Linked DNA regions of Homo sapiens: regions 1 and 3 are each linked to region 2. Evidence: fine-mapped expression QTL. A gene starts in region 2. Each other region holds a variant in brackets. All regions are shown on one strand. Distances are from middle to middle.

Region 1 (5,000 bases), 39 kb before region 2:
TAGTAGAGCACGGCCAGCACTGTCTGGGCACAGGCCTTGGCCGTGCCCGACACATTGTGGGTCAGCGGACTGGTGAACTTGATCTGCAGTCCTGTCACGTAGCCGATGGCAAAGCCAAACAGGCCGCCCAGCGTCATCATCCCCCAGAAGTGGGCACTGCCCAGCTGGGCAAAGTCACGCAGGGCCTGAAGCTCCCCGAGCAGCAGGAGCAGGGGCAGGAAGAGGATGCAGGCGTTGACGTTGTTGTAGAAAGTCAGGCGCCAGATGCTGCCGTCCACCGCCGGGAGCACCTTCGTGGTGTAGATGGCGTTGAGCGAGACACAGAGGCTAGCCAGCACGCCGAAGACGGTGCCCAGCCACGACAGGGTGCCTTCTGCCCCCTCCTGGTCCACACCAAGCCAGAAGCCCCCTGCAGTGGGGAGAGGAGGAGTGGGGAAGGGTGAGGAAGAGGGATGAGGACGAGGAGGAAGAAGGACAGAGGATCAGACACCAAATTTCACAGACTGAGTATTGCGGCCCTCCCCGTTCCTCCCCAGGCCTCCCTCCAATAAGCACAGCCAGAGTCTCCACTGCAGGCAAAGCACTCCACATGAACTATGGGAGCCGCCCAGGGCAAGAAAACCTCCTCTGGCAGCTTATCTGCTAGCAGAGGAGAAAGACATTAAAACAAATCTTCCCAGTTACTTCTTTAATTACAATTGTAAGAATTGTAATGAGGTCCATAAAGTAGTACAAGGTGCTGTGAGAGCCTGTAAGTGGGCGACTGTGCTGGCCTGGGGCATCTGAAAATAACAGTTGAACTGAGTTCTGAAGAATGAGTGCCACTTAGTGGTTAATGTGATTTAAGGTGACCCTGCGTAAATGACTTCCAGTGTCTAAGCCTTGGCTGCTTCTTGCATGGAATGGGAGCCTATGATGTCATCATGGGGCACATTAAGTTAGAATCTCTTGTGTCATTTGGGGCAGTGACTCTGAGACTCTCATCTTGTGTCACTTCCTGCTCAAAGAGCTTCCGTGGCTCCCCACTTCTGCCATGAGGACTACACTCCTTGGCGTGGCAGGCGGGGGTGCAGGCCCTTCCTCTGTCCTATGGTCGCCCCAGCTTCCCTGCTCGTCTCCCTGCTTCTCACCCTGGGCCTCAGTGTCCTTGTTCATGTCCTGTGCCAGAAACACCCTCCTCCTTTCTGGGGGATTCTACTCATCTGTCAAGGTCAAAGTTGGCTTCTCCTGGGGAATCCTTTCCTGATAATCCCAGAACCTGGACTCTTACTGCCTCGCTTTCCTGCAAAGCCCCTTGCCTGCTCTGGGCTGCTGGGCCCCTGCCCATGGTGACAGTCTGGTCTTTTTAGCCAGATCCCATGCTCCCAGAAGCCAGGGGCTGAACAATGCATGTTATACTTCCTGCCACAGCATCTGGCAACACGGGGCAGTGGGGAAAGTTTTGGGGTCAGAGGGATTTAGCCTCCAATCAGGCTCTGCAATTTAGAAGCTGAGTGGCCTGGGAGAAGTTACTTAACCACTCTGAGCTCTCTGGGTCACCTCCCTGTCCTCCACTCCAGCCAATCTACTCTCCACCTTGCAACTGATATGATCATCCTGAAGTCCAGATCGGTCCAGGCTGTGCCCTGGTGTGAAGCCTCTCTGTGGCTCTCCACTGCCTTCAGGAGAAATTCCACTCACTCACCACAGCTCTTAGGACCTGCACCACGTGGAGTCGGCCTGACTGGGCAGCCTTGTGTCTGGTGAGTCTTGCTGTGGCCCAGCCATGAAGAAGTGCACGTGCTCTTCCTTCTATCTAGAATGTTCTGTCCCTACTTCTTCCTCTAAACCCAGTTTCTAAACTTCCTCCAGAAGGCCTGCTTAGACTGCCCTGTCCCCGGGTCCCCTCCCTTGCCCAGAGCTCCCACAGCCCCTTTTATGCATGCCCCATCACAGCCCTTACTATGCTAGCGTAACTGTCACCACCATGCCCTCCAGGAGTGTAGGAGCTGAGGTTACCTTTTCCAAACTTGTATCCCCAAAGCCTGGCATGGTGCCTGGCATGTGTTTAGCCACCAATTACTAGTCGTGGAATGAATGAATGAAAGTTGTTATGGAGGTGGTTGTATTAAAGGAGACAGGATACTTCCTACATCATAGGCACTCAACACACAGCACTCTTCTCTTTTTCTCTTTGTTTTTTGAGACGGAGTCTCGCTGTGTCACCCTGGCTGGAGTACAGTGGTGCGATCTTGGCTCACTGCAACCTTCGCCTCCTGGGTTCAAGCGATTCTCGTGCCTCAGCCTCTTGAGTAGCTGGGATTACAGGGATGCGCCACCATGCCTGGCTAATTTTTGTATTTTCAGTAGAGAGGGGGCTTCACCATGTTGGCCAAGCTGGTCTTGAACTCTTGACCTCAGGTGATCTGCCCGCCTCAGCCTCCCCAAGTGCTGGGATTACAGGCATGAGCCACCATGCCCAGCCCAACCACAGAGCCCGACCCTCCTCTTTCTTGACAGAACCTTTGCACAAGGGGTACCCACAGACCTGCTGGGGG[T/C]AGGGTGAGGGGGGCAGAGGGCTGCACCACCCACTCACCTGCTTGGCTACAGCACCCCTAGCCCTCCTGGTGGTTACCTTCTGAGTCCAGAAGCAACTGCAACATCAATGTTCTAGAGCGACTCTTGCCCAGAAAGAACTTTTTTTTGAGACTGTGTCTTGCTCTGTCGCCCAGGCTGGAATGCAGTGGCGCGATCTTGGCTCAATGCAACTTCTGCCTCCCGGGTTCAAGCAATTATCCTGCCTCAGCCTCCCGAGTAGCTGGGATTACAGGCACATGCCACCACGCCCGGCTAATTTTTTGTATTTTTAGTAGAGACAGGGTTTCACCATGTTGGCCAGGCTGGTCTCGAACTACTGATCTCAGGTGATCCACCTGCCTCAGCCTCCCAAAGTGCTGGGATTACAGGCATGAGCCACTGTGCCTGGCCCAGAAGGAGCTTTGAAAGTTACTGTGTGACATGGGGGGCTAGGAGGGGAGGCCTAGAATAGTTGCCTGAGACTCGTCTTCCCCTACAAGGAGGAAGAAAGAGGAAACATTGCAGATAGGGAGCCAGGTCCTGGGCTGGCAGAGAGCGTCCACCTCCCTGGCCCCTGTCCCAGTCAGGCACGCCCGTGAATGCACCATTCTCAGAACCTCACCACTGGTTACTTGGATTACCTTTGGGATTTGGGCCCAGTTACCCTAGTGTCTTCACCTTCCTGCAAGCAAATTCTCCAACTAGGAGCCTCTACCCCTGAGGCCACTCCTGGCAGGGTCAGCAGGAATGAAGTAGAGAGCCCTGGGGCATCTGAGGAGGACAGGGAGGAGGGGAGGTACACCTGTTCCCTGGAGAGGGAAATGGAAGCAGGCTGGGAGAGTTCTGGCAGGGGGGGTCTTGCAGCTTCCCCTACTCTAACTGTGACCTTCTCCCTTCTCCCCTCTTGGACTTAGACCCAGCAGCCCTAGATCCAGCAGCTGCTCAACAAGGGGAAACATTTTCTAGGACAGGTGGCATGGGATGGGTCCCTTCCCCCACCAACCGGTGCATCTAGCCTGGGACCCTGAGCCATCAGCAAAGAATATGATATGTAGGCCAAATAAGATAAACTTTATAGCACCAGGAAAAACCAGCATAGGTTCAAATGAAGACCCCATTCCTAGATGACGCAGCCCTGGGAAGACTCGGAGGGAATGGGATGCTGGAGGCTCTCTAACGCAGCATGGGGCCCAGTAAAATATGGGCCCATCTAACCTGTGCTGTCCCATACCATAGCCCTCAGCCACATTTGGCTACTGAGCCCTTGAAATGTGGCTAGAAAATCAGGTTGTAACATCTGCAAATGAGGAAGTGAATGTTTAACATTTTGCTTAATTTTAACTAATTTAAATAAGTGGCCAATGGCTACTGCATTGAATACTGCAGTTCTAACCTCCAAGACGAGCAGAGGGGATAGAAGCACAGGCCTGGGAGTCTGGCCAATCTGGGTTTGCATCCCAGCCTGGCTGCTTGCTAGCTGTGTGGCCGTGGGCAAGTAATGTAACATCTCTGAGCCTCAGTTTCCTTGTTTGTATAGAGATGACCGCTGGTAGTGATGCCACAACCCAGGGGATCTCTGGGAGAACAAAGGAGATGCTATATGTGAAATAATTAGCATAATTTCCCCATCAATAATTATTATTTTCTGAGGGTCAAGTCCAGGAAGACAGCTGAGGCCTCTCAAAGCATATTGCTTGCTACTGTCTCAGGCGCTATCCTGAGCTGGCAGAGAGTGATGGTATATTTATTAAAAGACGTATTGTCCTCTACTAAGAGCACTGGCTGGGAAATCAGGACACCTGAGCTCTTGAGAAACAATAAAGTACAGTGGTCGGGCATGTGAACTGTGAAGCCAGATTGCTTGAGTTCAGATCCCAGCTCTGCCACTTATTAGCTGGGTGATCTTGGACAAGTTAGTTAACTTCTCTGTGCCTTGGTTTTTCCCTCTGTAAAATGTGGATTATAATCCCATCTTGTTATGAAGATTAGCTGAGTTAATATGGCTAAGATCCATGTGCCTGGCACATTTTAATCACTCAACAAATGTCAGTTGCTTTTGCTGCTGTTGTTACTATTATTATTACTATTGTTCTTGCCCCGGCTGGGCTCCTAACTTGCTGGGTGACCTTTAGTAAGTTACTTGCTCTCTCTGTGCCCCCAGGCTCTTTCTCCTATGACTGCTGCACCAAAGGAGCTGGGACAGATGAAGTCCTAGGATGCCTAGAAGAGTTGTTCTTCACTGCTTCAGTCCCCATGACCACTCTATCCCCCGTGGCCCCAGCTGCCACTCACCGATGATGATACCGCAGGTGAGCAGGGCATAGAAGGAGGTGGTCTGCTTGAGCAGCAGGTAGGAGAGCAGCACGTTGAAGACGGTGGTGAGTGAGCGGCCCACATTGTAGAAGGCCACACCGACGTACTTGAGGCAGAGGTTATTGAAGGTG
Region 2 (10,057 bases):
TGGGATTATAGGCCTGAGCCACTTGCCCAGTGAGAATCCTTTTCTGACTGCATGGTTTGGCCCTGAGTGGACACTTGGAATTCAGGCTACAGGCCGGGAAAACATTACCATCCTTGCACCTGCTGGGTGGGCGCCCATTCTGTCCGACCAGGAAACAGGTCCCAGCACCCAGGTGCTAGGCATACAGCGAGGATAGCCTGGGTGTCTCCTGCTCTCAGGACCACCTTGTCTGGTGGGAGACATGCATATGTAGAAACATGGGAACATGGCAGAAGAGGCAGGAATGGAGCTGGGGGCTTTGGACCTAGGGCAGGCATGGCTGAGCTAGGCCATTTCATTCTCTCCTCCTGAAGAATGGCCCCCTTCCTTCTGCTATTGTTCTGTGGAGTCCTTCTCTGGTGCTTGGGAGCCCAGCCAGCAGTAGCCTCAGTGACCCCAGGGACAGGCCCCCACAACAGCAGAGGAGAGAGAGAGGGACCGGGGTGTTGGCGGCGAGGCTGGTGTGGAGATAGGGAGATGAATGTCTTAGCTGGAGGAGCTGGAGAAGTCCAGGCTGCCCATTTTTCAGAGGGGAAAGCTGAGGCCCTCATAGAGCAAGGGATTGTCCAGGGAAAGGAACGTGAGTATCGAGGAAGAAAAACCTGGGGGGCAGGGGCCCAGAAGAGAAGGCAGATCCCTCTCCACCCCACCCCAGGCAGGAAGCCCAGGCTCCAACCACCGCCTTTGGGCCAGGCACCTCTGCTGTCCTCTGAAGGGGTGGGGAGGATGAGTGTGGCTTCTGGCCCACTGGACATGCTTGCAAGGCACATTTGCAGATTTGCTGCTGCAAGGGGAGGGGTGGGCTGGTGGGGAGGTGCCGGCCTGATGGGGCACCTGGAGGGTGGAGAGACCCCTAGGCTCCTGTTTACTCCCCCTCAAGTCTCAGAGGCAGCCCAGAGGCAGAAGGAGACTTGATGGACACTTGCGCAAAGTCAGGGCTGGACCGGGCAATTCCACATGCAGTTCTCCTGGCTGGTGAATTCTTGAATTAGTGGGAGGGCAGGTTCACTCTCCAAAGTTGGACCATAAATTCTCCGAGGGGCAGGATCGCCTCACCCGGACACTGGCCCTTATACATCCCAGGGTACCAGTAAATGTACGCCTCATCCAGTCGCTTTTCTAACTGCAACAAGAGCGAAGGAATATTTATTGGGCACTTACTCTGTTCTAGACACTATCACAGCAGGGACTGCTTTTCATTCTGGCACCAATTCTGGGAAGTAGATGGTATTATTATCCCCATTTGACAGAGGTGGAAACTGAGGCCCAGAAAGGTGAAGTGCCTTGCATAGAGACTTGCTCAAGGTCACATGCAAATGGAATCAGGACTGGAATCCAAGTGGGTTCAGAGCCTGCCCTGAATGCCCCACTTTTCCTCCTTCCTAGGGCCCGTGGCACTCTTTCTGGGGCCAAGCTCAGGCCAAGCTGAAGGAGCCATTCTGGAAGCAATTCTGGGCAGACGAAGGCCAAGAAGCCAATTCACAGCGGTTGTGCTGACGAGTTTCTTGGCAATGTGGAAAGTCTGACGATCTTACAAATGTGTGAAACTGAGACTCAATTTTCCCTCATCCTACCTCCCCTTTCTACCCACCCTCCAACATGGATCTAAATATGGATGCTATATTGGGGGAGTAGCCCCCCTCTCTAGACTGCAAGAGAAGATGACGTTGGGGAGGAGGTGGGGCCAGCCAAATTGGGCAAGAGCGGCCTCAGATGATGCTGCCTCCAAAAAGGTCCCTGTGTAAGTATGAGGTGGGTGGCTGAGATTTCTGAAATCCGTATCTGAGATGACTAGGTGGAGTCATACATTTCCACCCTTCTGGGGTTAAGGACACAGCCTTAACCATTTAGGGTGACCATTTAGGGTGAAGTCACTGTTTATGGGAGTCTAAACTGTGACTTTGGCAAGGTGCAATATAAAAATGCTAATACATGTTTATGCACTAAGCTGGAAATAATGCCAAGCCCCTCAGTTAAAAAAAAACCTGTCAAGAATTGCAGTTTCCTTGAGTCGGAGGAACTAAGTGAGCTGTTAAATGAGGACTGTAAACCTGCCACATGGCGACGTTGCTTTGGTTATTAAATAGAAATACCTGCTTTCTATATGCATGCACTGTTGTTTACATGCCTCTGAATTTCTAATTTCTGCAGGAGATTCTGGTGACTGGTGTGCCATTTTCTCAATGTTCACAGTTATTATAACTTTAAATATTTTACCCATATCCTGTAACAATGTCATCCAAGTGTTCTTTAAGTGGTGGTGCTGAAAAACGCACCTGAAAATCGATAACATTGGAAAGGAAGTGAGATGTGATAAAACGTTATGAAGAAGGCCAAACCACCGGCAGGAAATGCTGCACTGTTAATTTAGCAGAGAGTGCGTTATGAAATATTAGCGATAATGCCAGGGAAATAAAAAGCAGCATTAAGGCAAAAATATGCCACAATTGGAGTAATGTATGCAACCTATCCTTTCTACTTTGCATTCATTTCTCTGGCAAAATTAGTCAGAAATTATGCACGCTTTGAATTATGCAAGTTTTTCAGGACCACATGCTTTGCATAAAACTCTACTGCCCTGAGGTTCTCAGTGGGTGGAAGAATGAGTGACCATATTCTAGGGTTATCTTAGGCCAGGCCGTTGTACCCTCCTGTCCTAGGTGGGGATGAAGTGACCTCATGTGTAAAATGGGACCGTTGGACTGGCTTGTCTTTCTTTCCTTATTAGACTATGTCGAGACAGGCACCATTATATTTCTGCCCCAAAGGTGTCTTTTTCTGGACGGATCCCACAGCTGATACCAAACTTGTCTTTATTAACTGTGAGGCTGGCCATTCAAACACCAGGTGCCAGAGAGGGTCCCTCACTCATCGGAATCCGGGTGGGATGAATCCTCGGAGGCAAGGTCCCTCCACCTTCACCCTAGAGTCACACAGAGACTTGCCCTGGCGGCTGGTGACAGGTGGGCGGGAGAAGAAAAGGCCCCTGGGGAGCAGGAGAAAGCCAGGTGCCATGGGGACCCAGCGCCGCTGGAGGGCAGCACCAGCACACAGCTGAGGCCGCCTCTCCCGGAGCCCGGAGGGAGCTGGGTTCCGGTCGCCAGCGGTGCCCGGGTGAGCAGTTCACCCTCACGTCCCTGCTCTGACGAAGTTTCCATTCTTCTGGAGAAGACAAAATAAACGTGAACAAATGAACAAGTGTGCATTGTCAGGCAGCAAGTGTTGGTACAAACAAGATAGTGGTGGGGGTGGGGACACCGTTAAATAGGGGCCAGGGAGGCCTAACCCGGGAGGGGATAGCTGAGATGCCACTTGAGTGGAGAAAACAGTCCGAGATCTGAAGGTGTTCATGGAGAGGGGAAGGGGCCCCTAGAGGAGTCGGGAAAGCCTGGGTCAGGGAAGACGAGAAAACTGAGGAACAGAGAAGCCAGGTAACTTACCCAGGGTCATAGAGCCGGTGAGCTGGGGACAGCGCCTGTCAACGCCCCAGAGCCTTCCACGGCACTGGTTTCTCCGACCTTCCTCTCTAAACAGGACCGTGACAGTGACAGTTTCTGCCCCACTCCCCATTTCTGACCGCAGTCCCCATAAGGAAACAGGGCAGGGATCACTGGCTGTGAGCCCAGCAAGTCCCCTCCCGTGGCTTTCTCAGTTATTAAATGGAAGGGTGGGTCCCCCCATAACTCCGAAGCTCCCCTCTCTAAGCGTCCGCGGGCCGGGAACGCCTGAATTCTGGCTCCCGAGCACCTTCTTGTGGACAGTTTTGGAATCACACGCTCAGCGAGAAAGGGTCGTGGGAAAATGGTCTGTGCTAATTTCGGAGAGGCCAGTGGATTGGAAGGTTATCACTGAGGGTGGGTGCACGTGTGTGTGTGTGTGCGCGCACGTGCATGCGTGCATGCATCTGTGTGCCTGTGTGTGTTGGTCTGTGTGTGAATGTACCTCTGTGCGTATCTGTGTGTATGGTTGTGTGTGAGCACATACTGCCCGAGCCTGTGTGTGTGTGAGTGTGTGTGTGCACTAATGTTTGTTTATATGGGCACAGGCACACACATGTCCATGTCCATGTGTGTGTACCTGCATCTGTATTTTTTCGTCTGGTGTATGGGCTTGTTTTTGTGTGCCTGCATGCATGTGCCCATGTGCGTGTGTGTTTTGGGAACTGGGACACAGAGGATGATATGAGAAGTCCCCAGTCTTTCTCACAAAGGCCTAACCACTCTCCCTGAAGCCAGCTTTCTCCCCTACTTGCTTCTGTCTGCACCATCACCTGAGTTCTCCCACCTGAACTTTTCACCGACATTTTTGATGATTTTTCTGTTTTGTGTCCGTTGAGGCTCATTTGAATGTTACAGATCATAGCTCAAGAAATGATTCTCAGGCCGGGCATGGTGGCTCATGCCTGTAATCCCAGCACTTTGGGAGGCTGAGGCAGGTGGATCGTCTGAGGTCAAGAGTTCAAGACCAGCCTGGCTAACATGGTGAAACCCCGTTTCTACTAATAATAACAAATTAGCCAGGTGTGGTGGCGTGTGCCTGTAATCCCAGCTACTCGGGGGGCTGAGGCAGGAGAATCACTGGAACCGGTGAGGCAGAGGTTGCAGTGAGCTGAGATCCCTGGGTGACACAGCGAGACTCCGTCTAAAAAAAAAGAAAGAAAGAAGTGATTCTCCTCTAGTCTACTCACCCAAATCATGAGTTTCACTTCTCAGGTGGGCTGATCACCCACTGTCCTGTTGAGACCTGGGGACTTGTACAAAGTCGTACCCTGGAGGGTTGAGCAGAAAACCAGGCACATAGTAACTAAGACAATGGCGCGTTAGCAAAGCACTCCACACATCCCGTTCACATGTGTGTCTTACTTGACTCACAAACTGATCTTTCATCCTTTTTTTTTTCCTTTTTTGTGGTGAACAGGGTCTTGCTATATTGCCCAGGCAGGTCTCAAACTACCGGCTGATCTTTCAAGCCTAGGCAAGGTGAGGCTAATTATTCCCATTTTACAGATGAAGACACTGAGGCTCAGAGAGGGAAATAATGAAAATAGTACTGCAGGAACCATCTAACCAATATGCAAACTCTCTCATCCAGTTTTCATAACATCATCAATTCCCTTCTTTAAAAGACAAGGAGATGGAGGCTTTAAAAATGTAAGGCGAGTGCTTAATGCCATATAGCCAATCAGTAGTTGAGGCAGGATTTGAATCTCGCTCCAGAGATTAAAGCCCAAGTCCTAAACACAATGGCAGGCGTGAGGGCCCTGGGCACACACTGACTCAAGCTCTTTCAGCCACACACTGTCCCTTTGCCATGCCTCTGGGGTCCTAAGAACATCCTCCTCTGAGCCCACAGGGAGGTCATTCCCCATCCTGGGTGCCCCTGCTCCTCTCCCAGATGCGGGGCAGGTGAATCTTGTAACCTGTGTCACTCTCAGAGGCTGAGATGGGGACTGAGCATTAATTATGCAATAACCTCGCTGTGGTGTGCCTAATTGTCTGATAACCATAATTGAATCTTATGGATTACACCAACATTATTGCAGGGAGCAGCTTAAGGCAGTTAACAGAAGCTGCACTCACTTTGTGATATCTTCCTCCTGTCTCCTTGCTGGCTGGGCTGTGAGTCCTTTCCTGGGGGCTGAGGGAGGCCTCGAGGTGCAGGGGGCAGGCAGGAGGTGAGTGACAGCACAAATGTCGCATCACCTTATCCCCCCGAGGGCACCATCTTCCTGGCTGAGAAAAGTCTGTGTGGCAGGTGGAATTATCATTTTGTAAATGAGAATGTGGCATCAGAAGGCTGAGAGACTCTCCCAATTTCAGTCTTGCTCATTGCTACTGGTCCTTGCTAGCATCATCTGGGACTGTTTAGACGTGCAGCATCTCAGCTGGGCTCGGTGGCTCACGCTTGTAATCCCAGCACTTTGGGAGGCCAAGGCGTGTGGATCATGAGATCAGGAGTTTGAGACCAGCCTGACCAACATGGTGAAACCCCGTCTCTAAAAATTAGCTGGGCATGGTGGTGCGTGCCTGTAATCCCAGCTACTCAGGAGGCTGAGGTAGGAGAATTGCTGAACCTGGGAGGCGGAGGTTGCACTGAGCCGAGATCACGCCACTGTACTCCAGCCTGCGTGACAGAGCAAGACTCCGTCTCAAAAAAAAAAAAAAAAAAAAAGAAATGCAGCATCTCAGGCCCCACCCTGGACCTACTGAATCAGAAGCTGCATTATTTTTTATTAAATGAATTTTTTTTCTTTAAAGAGATGAGATTTTGCTCTGTCTTCCAGGCTGGAGTGCAGTGGTGCGATTGTGGCTTGCTGCAGCCTCGAACTCCTGGGCTTGAGAGATCCTCCAGCCTCAGCCTCCCTAGTAGCTGGGACTACAGTCGGAGCCACCATGCCTGGCTCTCAGAATCTGCATTGTAATAGCATCTCAGGTGATTTATTTTCACGTTGCCGTTTGCTGAGTGCTGGTTTATGTAATTATTTATTCATTGCCTATGTGGGATCCATTGCCCTTTCTTGTGTCAGCAACACCTTGACTTCCATTTGGGAAATAACCCTTCTTCCCATATGGGAGACCCCTAGCTGTACCCTTACTCCTACCTCCCTCAGGCATTGACCCCAGGCCAGGCCAATGAGTCAGTTCCAAGATCTTTGAGGCACTGTTGAGGAAGACGTGTTTGATGGAGTTTTGCTGAGGCTTCTTCATTCCCTCCCTCCCTTGCATGGTTCACTGTGGGTGAATATTCTTCCCCACACCATCCATGGTGAGCTCAGCCACTGACTTGCTTTGGTCAATGGAATGTCGGTAGAAGTGATGATGTGTGGGTTCCAAGCTAGGCCTTAAAGAAGTATCTTGTGTTTCCGCTTGCCCCTCTAGAGCTCCTGCCCACCATGAGAAAGGAAGGTACACCCAGGCGACCATGGCACCTTCATCTGGAGTCCAGGATGGAGACTGTGGGGCAAATTGAACCTAACCAGAGACTGGAGTCCAGCCTAACTCTGATATTAACAACCCCCCAACTAACCTGCAGACCCATGAGTATGAAAGGAATGGTTGTTATAAGCAACTGAGATTTTCAGAGTGCTTGTTGCATGGCATTGGTGCAGCAGACACCTGACTGGTATAAAAGACATACTTTCTTTCCAGGGGGATTGCTAAGCTGAATTTGGATTTTAGGTGTTATCTTGTCACTAGGAAAGCAGGGCCTGCCTAAGGGCAAAACCAACCCAGAGGGAAATGGAGCTGAGATAGGATGAGAGCCCTGATCATGATGACAGCCTTTGTTTTCATGGATCCAGCCTCACAGGAGTTAGTCAACTCTTTCAGTCTCAAGGAGTAGAGAGCTGAAACTTCGCTGGCTTAAACCCAAGAAGGAATTAGCGGCTCACATAGCTCAGAAGTCTGGAGGTGATGTGGGTTTCAGGTGAGGCTTGAATCAGTAGCCCCTGGACCAGTGTCCTTGTCTCTCCACTCTGGGTCCCATTTTGCTGGTTTCATCTGGAGGCTGGCTCCCCTTTGTGATATCGTAAAATACATATTGAGTTGTTGTCCACATTTCCTGGCATGTTACTCCTAAAATCTATGGAATCTCCAAAGTGGTAAGTGTCTTTTTGTATGCTAATGAGTTGACAGTTGGCTGGCAGCCCCTAGGTAGCTTGAGGATGGGGGCTACTCCAGAAAGTTCAAGGCAGGATTAGAGGACTGGGGCTTTCAGCCCCACTCCCATTCTCTCTTAGAGGGGAGAGGGGCTGGAAGTTACGTTGATCACCAATGGCCGATGGCTTAATCAATCACGCCTGTGTAATGAAGCCTCCATAAAAACCCTGAAGGACAGGGTCTGGAGAGCTTCTGGACAGCTGGACACACGGGGCTCCTGGAGGATGGCGCTCTGCTCCCCCATACCTTGCCCTATGCATTGCCCATCTGTGTCCTCTGTGGTATCCTTTATAATAAGTGAGTCAACGTGTTTCCCTGAGTTCTGTGAGCTGCTCTAGCAAATTAATCCAACCAATGAGGGGATTGTGGGAACCTCAATTATAGTCAGTTGGTCAGAAGCACAGCTAAAATACTCTGGGACTTGTGATTGGCATCGGGAGAAGGGGAGCATCTTGGGGACTGAGTCCTTAGCCTGTGGAACCTGACGCTATCTCCAGGTGGGGAAGTGAACTGAATTAGAGGACACCGAACTGGTGTCTGCTGCGTAATTGATTGCTTGCTTACTATGTGGGAACGCCTCCCCAAACACCCATCTGGTGTAAGAAGCCCACTGTGAGTGTATAGTGGGAGAAACAGTCTGCTTATCCATGTATTCTCAGACCCTCATTGGAGCACGATGGCGTCCTTGTTCGGGTCTAACAGGAGAGAGAGTGTTTGTTCTGGAAGCGAGGAAGCTTCTTTCTCAGGAGCTGGCAGCAAATGTCTCAGGTCTCATGGCCTCAGGTCAGGTCACATACCGTCCCTGCACCAATCTCAGAGGCTGGAGACAGAATGTGCTGATGGGCCAAGGCTGGCTGGCTGGGGGGCAGGTTAGTGTCACTGAACAGCACAGAGCCTCAAGAGAAATAGGGCTTGGCCTGAGGAGAGGTGTTGGGGATGCTGGCTGGGAAGACGCAGGAGTTCCCTATTGCTGCTGTAAAACAGCATCACAAACGTGGGGGCTTAAAGCAACAAACATTTATTCTCTCACTTTTTTTTTTTTTTAGATGAAGTCTTGCTTTGTCGCCCAGACTGGAGTGCAGTAGATTGATCTCAGCTCACTGCAACCTCCGCCTCCCGGGTTCAAGCGATTCTCCTGCCTTAGCCTCCTGAGTAGCTGGGATTACAGGCTCCCACCACCATGCCCGGCTAATTTTTGTATTTTCAGTAGAGACAGGGTTTCACCATGTTGGCCAGGCTGGTCTCGAACTCCTGACCTCAAGAGATCTTCCTGCTTCAGCCTCCCAAAATGCTGGGATTACAGGCATGAGCCACTGTGCCCAGCCTATTCTCTCACATTTTTTGAGGCTAGAATTCAGACAAGGTGGGGCAAGGTTGGTTCCTTCTGGAGCTTCTGGGGGAGAATCGGCTCCATACCTCGCCCAGCTTACAGTGGTTGCCAGAAGCACTTGGTGTTCCTTGGCTTGTAGCCACATCACTCCAATCTCTCCTTCTGTTGTCACATGGTGTATGACACATGCCAACACAAACAACTCATTTCTTTTTTTTTTGTATTTTTTGTAGAGATGGGGTTTTGCCATGTTGCCCAGGCTGGTCTTGAACTCCTAGACTCAAGTGATTGCCTGCCTCGGACTCCCAGAATGCTGGGATTACAGGCGTGAGCCACCATGCCCCACCAAGCCACTGTGGTCAGCCCACATGGCCTTCTTACAAAAATACCTGTCATTGGATTTAGTGGCCACCCTAATCCAATATGACTCCATCTTAATTTAACTAATGACATCTGCAAAGAACCCATTTCCAAACCAGGTCACATGCTGAAATTCCAGATGAACATTTTGGGGGAATGTGATTCAACCCGGTACTGAAGATAACTAGCTAATGCTCACCAGATTAAATTAAGATGATAAAATCCATTCTGTTCAAAATGTTTCTTATTTTGGAATAATTTCAGACTTACTAAAAAATTGCAAAAATAGTACGGAGTTCCTTTAATATCCTTCACTTAGCTTTCCCTAATGTTACTGTCTTGCGTAACCATAATACAATGATCATAACCAAGAAATTGACATTGACACACTACTACTAACTAACCTACAGACTTTCGTTCAGATTTCCCCGGTTTTTCTATTAATAGCTTTGTTTTGGCTCCAGGATGCAGCCCAGGATTCACACTGCATTTAGTTGACAGGCCTCCTTAGTCTCCCACAGGCTGGGACAGCTCCTCAGCCCTTCTCTGTCTCTCATGACCTTGACACTTTGGAAGAGTATTTGTCACTTATTTTGTAGGATAGTCCTCTATTTGGGTTGTCTGTTGCTTTTTCATAATTAGACTGAGATTACGCATTTTAGTTACGAGC
Region 3 (8,998 bases), 83 kb before region 2:
TGTGAGGAAGAACTCAGTTGATGTAAACAAGCACTGGGAACAGCGCTTGACTCATAGGCAGCCCTCAATGAATGTGGGCAATTACTAGCACTGTGTGATTTGTACATGTATGCACAATTATGTGTGGGGTTACGGGGAGGGGAATTGAAGGATGATGTATTCACTAAGCTGTTTGCCTTGACATGACTTTTCCTTTTGTCTCGGAGTTAGGGTGGGGAGGGGCATGACAATCATTGTGTGCTGCTGAGGGTGATGGCAGTCTGTCCCACAGCCCTCTGTCCATGAGTTCCTGTGCTTCTATGTGGGCCTTAGAATATACTTTTTAAAGGGATTGAGGGAAAAGTGGACTGGCCCCGTTACTGCAAACAGAAACCTATGTGGCACCAAAATGAAGATTTCTATCAATCATTTACCCCATGGGAAACAAGAAAGCTTCCTCAGAAAGGCTGACCTTTTTTTTTTTTTTTTTGAGACGGAGTCTCGCTCTGTTGCCCAGGCTGGAGTGCAGTGGCACAATCTCGGCTCACTGAAAGCTCCGCCTCCCGGGTTCACACCATTCTCCTGCCTCAGCCTCTCGAGTAGCTGGGACTACAGGTGCCAGCCAACATGCCCAGCTAATTTTTTGTATTTTTAGTAGAGACGGGGTTTCACCATGTTAGCCAGGATGGCCTGGATCTCCTGACCTCGTGATCCGCCTGCCTCGGCCTCCCAAAGTGCTGGGATTACAGGCGTGAGCCACCTCGCCCGGCAGAAAAGGCTGACTTTTCCCAATAAGCAGAGCAAAGCAAGATGGGAAATGTACCTTGCTAGACATGAAACCCCACCTCAAAGTCTTGGCCTAGAAGGAACCCTAATAAATCTGGCTGGCTTGAGCCAAGAAAACATTGAAGGAAGCCAGTGGCATCCAGAGTGGAATGACTTACCACATCCTATGTCTGGACTGAGCTGAGAGCTTTCCAACAAGACACTGGTTTCCCAGAATTTTTTTCCTTAACACAGTTTCCATTCCAAGAGCAAGCTAACTGGCTGCCTTTGCTCCCAACTTCTCTAGCAGCAACAGCCAGACCAGCCCTGATGTTTCCATTCCCTCAGTCGGAATATCATATCACTCAGGCTGTGGGGAAACCGTCAGGGACAGAATCTCACTGTCTTCTCTGGGGCTCTGCACGCTTACCTTGAACAGCCTTGGGAACACGTCGGCTGGCTGTCCCCGGACTACAAACAGGCGGGAGTTCAGTTTCCTTAAACTTGTGTCCAAATCTTCCAGAGACTGAAGTAGGAACCTGTGGAGTCCACACAGGCCTTGTTAGTGATAACATCATGAAGAGTGGCTCTCTTTCCTAACAAAGCAGGGAGAAACTGGTTCGCTGTTTATGCCCAACAGGCAGCCTCATGATCACTAGGGCTGGAGAGGCCTGGGTTCCAGCCCAGGAGGGATGTGGTAGTGGATCAGCGCTGCTCTGCTTCAAACCCTGGTCTTGCCACTTACTAGCTGTGTGACTTTAGGCAATAACCTAACCTCTTTGCCTGTTTTCTCGCCGGTAATGTGAAGCTGATGTTAGTACCCATCTCATAAAATTGCTAAGAAAAGAAAATCGAATAATGTGTGAAAAACATTTAGCACTGTGCCTGGCACACAGACATCATGAGATAAATGTGAGCTGTTCCTAGTGTGGTGTTTCTGTGTGATCAGAGGCTAGTCACTTACTCCCTCGCAGTCTCTGGGGCTAGATATAAGTATCTGCCCAGCATGAGGTTGTTGTGAGACTCACGTGGGAGCCATCTGAAAAGCCAGTGCAATACTGTGGTATGAAGCATTAAGGTCCTCTTAGCAGAGGACCAGACTGCCACAGCCGGGAAAATCCTCCTTACTCTGGTGGAAAAGACTCCTTGACTTTCTGCATGCATGCTCTGGGCCATGCGTATTTCTGCTGCCACAGCCTCACAGCCTGCAATGGGTCCCTAGTTCCCAGAGCTTTGTTTGGCAGGTGGCTCACTCTCCAGGCCTCTCCAGGGCTCTGGTGATCAGGTTCTCATCCCAAGAGGGAGAAGGCCTTAAAAGGTACTTCTCAATAGCTATCTTCACATTTTTGTGGGGGTGGGGGTGGGGAAGACCGCAGCTAGGCAAGAACTTCAGCAGGAGACCTGGATCACCAGGGGAAAGGGAAAGGACATTAACATTTGCTGAGTGCCTTCAGCGTTTTATTTTTAAATTAAATTAACATTATAACCAGATAAACTATTCATGTGGCTCAAAATTCCAGTGACAAAGTGGTACATAGTAGAAAGGGTTTTCCCCTCCCTCACTCCCCAGAGGCAACCAAGGTTATCAATGGGATTTTGGTTCTGTCATGCTTTTTAAGTGCATTTCTGCATTTAATTCTCTCAACTATTTTGAAGGAAATAGTACCATCCTTATTTTATAGATGAGGAAACTGAGACACTCAGAGGTGAATTAATTTGTCTAAGACCATAGCTGTTAAGTGACAAAGCTGGGGATTCAGGAACCTAGGGTGGTCACTCTGAAACCCACATTTTCCTCTCTGTGCCCTTTTTTATTTATTTATTTACTTTTTGAGACAGAGTCTCGCTCTGTCGCCCAGGCTGGAGTGCAGTGGCGTAATCTCGGCTCACTGCAACCTCCCCAACCCAGGTTCAAGCGATTCTCCTGCCTCAGCTTTCCGAGTAGCTGGGGTTATAGGTATGTGCACCACACCCAATTAATTTTTTAAACAATATTTTTAGTAGAGATGGGGTTTCACCATGTTGGCCAGGTTGGTCTTGAACTCCTGACCTCAAGTGATCCGCCCTCCTCAGCCATCCAAAGTGCTGGGATTACAGGCGTGAGCCACCGTGAGGGTTCTGTGCCCCATTTCTAAAGATTTCTAGTTGCACACCAACTCTGTTCCAGGGGCTGAGATTCTGCAGGCCCTCAGGAGTTTGGAATCCTGTTCTCTAATAGCAATGTGACTACAGGTAATCCACTGGCATTCTTATCTTCTTCTTCAAGAACCCACAGGTCAATCTGCATATGTCACAGATACCTCTGAGGCACCTGCTATCTACCCCTTGGGTCTCCACCCATCCCCAGCATTTTTCTCTGTCAACAATAGAAATGGCACATCACAGTCACATTCCCTGACTACTGGAGGCTTACAGAAGCAGTGACTATTCCCAGGCTGCCAACTAGAACCAGCCCCCACTGCTGCCTCTGACGTACACAACTTGACACACTCCTACGGCCAATGCCACCGACCCACATTCTAGCATGGGCTGAGCCCTGGCCTCGGCTCAAAGCATCATGTTTGCAAAAGAGCATGAGGAAGACTCTCTGAGAGGTTGGGATGGAAGACAAACAGGTTGAATGCTGCTTTATGCAAACCAAAAGCTCCACCTCTGTGAATTTCTGTTTTTGAAAAATTGTCACCTCCAGAAAAGGAACAGGGAGCTGCAAGTGCGTCACTTGTGTTGGCCTCCCCCAAGCCTCACCACTCTTCTGGAAGGAAAAGAAGAGAAATCCATGCAAATGGTCTCATGCCATCTGAAACCTGGACCCTGCCAGGTAGAATGCCTAGGGCTAGGAGCAGTGATTTAAATTTCATAACCCCAGGACACAGGGTCCTCCATCTGCAGCTCCCAGGAGTGTCCTTGCCATGCGCTTTGGGGGTCTTTTCCTTCACAGTCCACCAGGCTGCATAGGACTTTGATTTGAAGCTATAAATAAGGTTGGAATGCACATGAAATCTAGGTTCCAGAACATGTAGCAATCTGCCTTCTATAGAACTTTATTTTTAGACCTCATTTACTAAAAGGAGAGATTCCTCGTAGCATCTCTAAAGTACAGCTAATCCTATGAGAGCCCTTTTCTTCTTTCACAAAAGATGTTTATAGCAGGAAGCAGAGATGTGAGGCTGGTAGAAGGCCCAACTCTGAACCCAGCAACTAAATAAAAATAATGATAATAATGGCAATGATTAACATTTAATAAGCATTTACAATGACAGGCACTATTCTACTTGTTTCACATACATTACCTCATTTAATTCTCAAACAGCCCAATCAAGTAGGTAATATTATTATTCCCATTTTATAGATGAGGGAACTGAGGCATAGAGAGATTATGAAACTTGCCCAACATCATATACCTAGTAAGTGGCCAGAATTCAAACCTAGGCAATCTGTCAGGCTTGACATGTTCGTTTTTAGCCAGCCACTGCCTCTCAACAAACAGAGCACTGAGGCTGTGCTGCCCTGGGCTCAGCCATTAGGGAGCACCACAGGCCAACTCAAAGGCCAGCAACACCTCTGCTGCCAGATCTTTCCTCCTCTGAGTGTGGTCTGACAATCAGCAGCATTGGCTGTGAAACACCCAGGAGTCTGTTGAAATGCAGAATCTCAGGCTCTAACCCAGACCTCCAAAATTAGAATCTGTATTTTAGCAAGATCCCCTGGTGATTCATTTGCATATTAAAGTTTCACAAGCACTACTCTAGAAAACTGAACTTTACTTCTAGTCTCTGTTACAAGTTGCCTTTCTTTGCTTCTAGTTTGTTTGTACTAAACTTTCTCTCTTGAGCATCCATATTTCTGCCTCCCCTTTGGCCTGCTAGAAATGCTCTGCTTCTTCCAACTTCCCTCCCGAGTCAACCCGGGAAGGGAGGGCTCAGGACAGCCACCACACGGAGGCAATAGACAGGGATGTGAGGAGGGTCCCCAGTATCTCCAGACTCCAGGCAGCCAGAGAATGCAGAGAATGAGAAGCCACCACTAGGGTACTACCTTTGAGGCCTGCCAGGTGACAGCTGTCCCTCACATTTGGAGCAGTGCTGCGACTGGGCAAAGGCTCAGTGGGCAGGTATATGCATTCTTTCACCAGAGAGAACCTTGGGCCTTCTGTGGTCCCTTAGAACCCTCCTCTTTACTCCAATTTCTCTTTACTCCAATGAGGGGACTCTGAAGGAAACTGGCCTGGGCATTGGAGATGGTGGTGTTGGGGGCTGGCACTTCACCCTTGGCAGCTCTTAGCTGAGCTCACATGGCCAAAATTCAGAGCACATGGTCCTGGGAGAGCAAAGCTTACCCTTTGGATTAGACAACATGTGCAACTGAATTACATTATTATGTAAGTGCTCTGGAGCCAGAGGCAGGCAGAACTGGAGAAAACCAGACTGGGATTTCCAAAAATATAGAGAGGACACTATAACTCAGGGACTCTACAAGGCTAGCCTTTTAGAATAAAACAAGCAGATCCTTTGATTAAGTACTCATATTTAGGGAAGGCCTTCTCTAGGAATGGCTGATCCTGTGTTGAGGAATATTTTATTTATTTGTTGTTAATGGGGGGAGGGAGGATAACAGTGAATTCTTTTGGGTCCAGGCTGTCCTTGACCAAGTTCCTCTGCTTCAAGGCAAGGTTATCTAACAACGATGATGATACCACTGGCTGGCACAGATTGGCTACATAGGATATTAATAGAAATTAATTTTTCCTAAGTAATTAAGAGAGCTTAAGCCCCATGGAAAAGGATAACCTAAACTCACAATCTCTGGCAGGGATTTATTTCTAAGTATCTGAGTGATATTTAGAAATACTTAAATATTAAATTCTTATTATTTTAAAAATATATTTATTCTTTCCTAATTTCAAAGAGAAAGATGAAGGTTTTTATCCCCTTTGGGCAAACAGAAACATTTCCTTGGCAGCAGAACAGTAAAGTGCCTCTCTCAGGTACCAATGTGAATAGCTCAGAGAAGCTCCTGTTTCCCTGCCAGTAGACTAGCGTTCTCAATCCACTTCCCAACAGTCCAACAGTGTTCAGCTCTCAGCATCTGGGAAGAGAGACACACTTGTTCTCATGGGGCATCCTGGGAAGTTCCCAGTTTACCTCATTTACCAATTCTAAGAGAAATGGGCTGAGAGGGAACATATTTTATTTCTACAAATTCCCTCTGTCCCAGAAGCTCCTGAAAGAGGCGCAGCACAGAGCCAGGGACAAAATGATTTAAATAAAGTGGAAGAGGAACTGTTGCTAACACCTATCCAAGTTGCAGTGGGGAGAGAAAGGTAATGAAAAACCACAGAGGTCATTTTAAAATCTAGGAACTGCTCACATCTTCCTTTAGTTTATCTTCTTGCTGCAGTACCTCCTTCTAGATGTAGCAAATCTGGGGAAGGTGAGGCTGGGGAAAATGTGAAAGGGCTTAGCCAAGTAGCACTTGGAAAAAAAAAAAAAA[AG/G]TCCTGAGGCTCATATAGCTACAATTAGCCCGTAAACTTCCCACCATCACCAGGGCAAGAAGTATGCTAGGCTTCTTCTTGCTAATCAATATGTGTATTTCTTGGTTGCATTTCTCTGTCCGTTTTTACTCTTAGTGCCATTCATAGTTATTTTAATCTGATTTCCTCTGCAGAAAAACATTGTGTGGGAGTCAGTGTAGAAGGAGCAGGAGGGAAACAGAGTCACAGATTTTGGGTCCTCCCCTCCTTGCAGATGGTCCCTTGCCCTTCCCAGGGAGGCTTCTCAGAGACAACTTAAGCAGTTGCAGAGCTAGGACATTATGCTGCAGCACAATTCTCTTAGACCACTCTTGGAATCCAGAAACAACCACGGGACGATTACACATACTACAGTCATGTCAAGATATGGCTGGCTCCAGCCCTCCCCTCTATCCCCAACTTTGTGCACAAAAGAGAATGCAGCTCTGCCTTCAACTGATCCAGGAAGCAAGCAGAATGGTGGAGGTGGTAGGAGTGTGTCTGTTTCCAGGCCCAGGAGCAGTTATTATATTCAATCTGTTTGTGTTACTTCATCTCTTTCTTCTGAATGCCAACATTAATTAGACTTCCTGCCAATGCACTGCAACATACTTCCTAGGTTGCCCGTCTCAGGACTGAGGTTCTCTAGTCCAGTGCTTCTTAAGCTTTGCTGCAATAAGAGCTTTAAAAACCTTAATGCCCAAGGCCGGGCACAGTGGCTCATACTTGCAATCACAGCACTTCGGGAGGTTGACGCAGGTGATTGCTTAAGCCCATGAGTTCAAGACCAGCCTGGAGAACATGGTGAAACCCCATCTCTACAAAAAATACAAAAATTAGCCAGGCATGGTGGTGCATGCCTGCAGTCCCAGCTACTTGGGAGGCTAAGGCAGGAGGATCGCTGAGCCCAGGAGGTCAAGGCTGCAGTGAGCTATGATCATGCCACTGCATTTCAGCTTGGGTTGTCACTTGAGCAGGACCCCGTCTCAAAAAAAAAAAAAAACAAAAAACAAAACAAAACAAAAAATCCCCAAACCTTAATGCCCAGGCCATAACCCAGAACAATTCTAACAGAACTGGGAGAAAGGGGCTGGGCACAGTGGCTCATGCCCTGTAATCCCAGCAGTTTGGGAGACCAAGGTGGGCAGATCACCTGAGGTCAGGAGTTTGAGACCAGCCTAGCCAACATGGTGAAACCCTGTCTCTACTAAAAATACAAAATAATTAGCCAGGTGTGGCGATGGCCACCTGTAATCCTGGCTACTTGGGAGACTGAGGCAGGAGAATTGCTTGAACCCGGGAGGTGGAGGTTGCAGTGAGTCCAGACTGCGCCATTGTACTCTAGCCTGGGCAACAAGAACAAAACTCCGTCTCAAAAAAAAAAAAAAATAGAATTGGGGGAAAGGGGCCCAGGTATCTTTTAAAGACCCTTATGGGATTCCAATGCACAGCAGCCAAGATTGAGAACCACTGCTCTAGTCTGTCCCCTTATCTTATGTTTCTCATGGCACTTCGTTTCACTAAATTATGGTTGTTTGTTGGTAAAATGTAGGCTCCAGGAGTTCTGGAGCACAGACACATCTGCTTATTCACTGCTGTATCCCTAGCAACATCTAGAGCAGTACCTGGCAGATATTAGGCACTTATTAAGTGATCAATTAATATCTGCATTCTTACACAGCCTCTGACTTCAGGATTTGACTCAGGCATCTGAGCCACATTCCTTTTCTTCTTCACTAGATTGATAGCACGATCACAAAATGATGACCCACAAAAATCCATAAACACCTGGTTCCTAGCAAACTGGAGTTTAATCAACAGGAATTTTATTGTTGATTTTTAATCTTCCCTATCAAAAAAGAGTAGGCAGTACTATGCAATGTCCCCCAAAACCCAATAAAAGAAGAAACTCTGTGACAATGTAACAAGAAGGTAGTCGGATTCCATTTGCCTGGCTCCGACTGGTGCAGGGCAAAGTCTGAGGCTTGGCTTAATGTGCACACTAGGGATGGTCATTTGATGATGCTTGTCAAACCCAACCTCCTATCTGTAGAAAACTGGAGCAGAGACAGAGCAATAAGGCAGCCTGAAAACTGTGGGCAGGCTCTCCACAGGACTCCTTAGTTGTTCCTTCTGGGCAGGAGGGGACACTGAACAGGCCCACTGCTAGCAGCACTCACTCTCTTAGCAGGGCACACACCTTGGAGAGAAAAGAATGGTGTGCCGAGAGCCACGGTATCCTGGAAATAACCCTGTCCATCGATGCAACAAGGCCACAAGCAAACATTCCCCAGAACAATGCAAACAAACCGAGCGACTGCCACTAGGTGTTCTGAAGAGCGATGGGTACATTATGTCTCAAAACTCTTTAGTTTGAATACTGTTTACAGTGAAAATACACTAACGACCTGTTCATCTTTTTCCATGATCATGTCGACTCCATCTCCTGGGGGGTCATCAGAGGGGCCCTTGATATCATGGCTTTCCTGCTCCCTAACCTTACCACAACAGTTCATAAAAGTCTCATCTCTAATGGCTCTACTGTCCTCTAAAATCATGACAAGAGGATGACGGGGTGACACTTTGGATTCTTTTAAATTTTTCTATCGAGGTCAAAGCTCCAGAGCAGGGCTTAAAACATTTTGGAGAATCCCCTGGATTCTCTGGAGCTTTGAACATAAAGCGACTCCACCTGAAGACGCCTTTGGCTTCTTTATTTATAATATAGGGGAGAAGACCTTATTT

What was found. PIP is the estimated chance that this variant, and not a neighbour inherited with it, causes the effect.
Region 1: its variant is fine-mapped to the expression of LINC02716 in hippocampus (GTEx, PIP above 0.99). The same link has a PIP of 0.9 or more in amygdala, anterior cingulate cortex, aorta, breast, hypothalamus and lung.
Region 3: its variant is fine-mapped to the expression of LINC02716 in prefrontal cortex (ROSMAP, PIP 0.95).

The regions. Positions count from the first base shown.
Region 1 is chr11:45,806,185-45,811,184 of GRCh38, reverse strand. SLC35C1 (solute carrier family 35 member C1) reads right to left here. Exons shown (of 2, transcript NM_018389.5): 1 at 4,849-5,000; 2 at 1-409. Among named protein-coding and RNA genes, the nearest start is that of SLC35C1, 3.5 kb to the right of the region's middle. RefSeq lists an enhancer at 3,758-3,817. The variant T/C (reference allele first, on the strand shown) is at 2,538.
Region 2 is chr11:45,765,137-45,775,193 of GRCh38, reverse strand. LINC02716 (long intergenic non-protein coding RNA 2716) reads right to left here and starts at 3,762. Exons shown (of 2, transcript NR_027134.1): 1 at 3,480-3,762; 2 at 2,836-3,201. RefSeq lists an enhancer at 3,569-4,070.
Region 3 is chr11:45,848,267-45,857,264 of GRCh38, reverse strand. It overlaps CRY2 (cryptochrome circadian regulator 2), which reads right to left. Exons shown (of 12, transcript NM_021117.5): 2 at 1,175-1,283. Among named protein-coding and RNA genes, the nearest start is that of CRY2, 5.3 kb to the right of the region's middle. RefSeq lists an enhancer at 4,527-4,666 and a silencer at 4,653-4,947. The variant AG/G (reference allele first, on the strand shown) is at 6,235.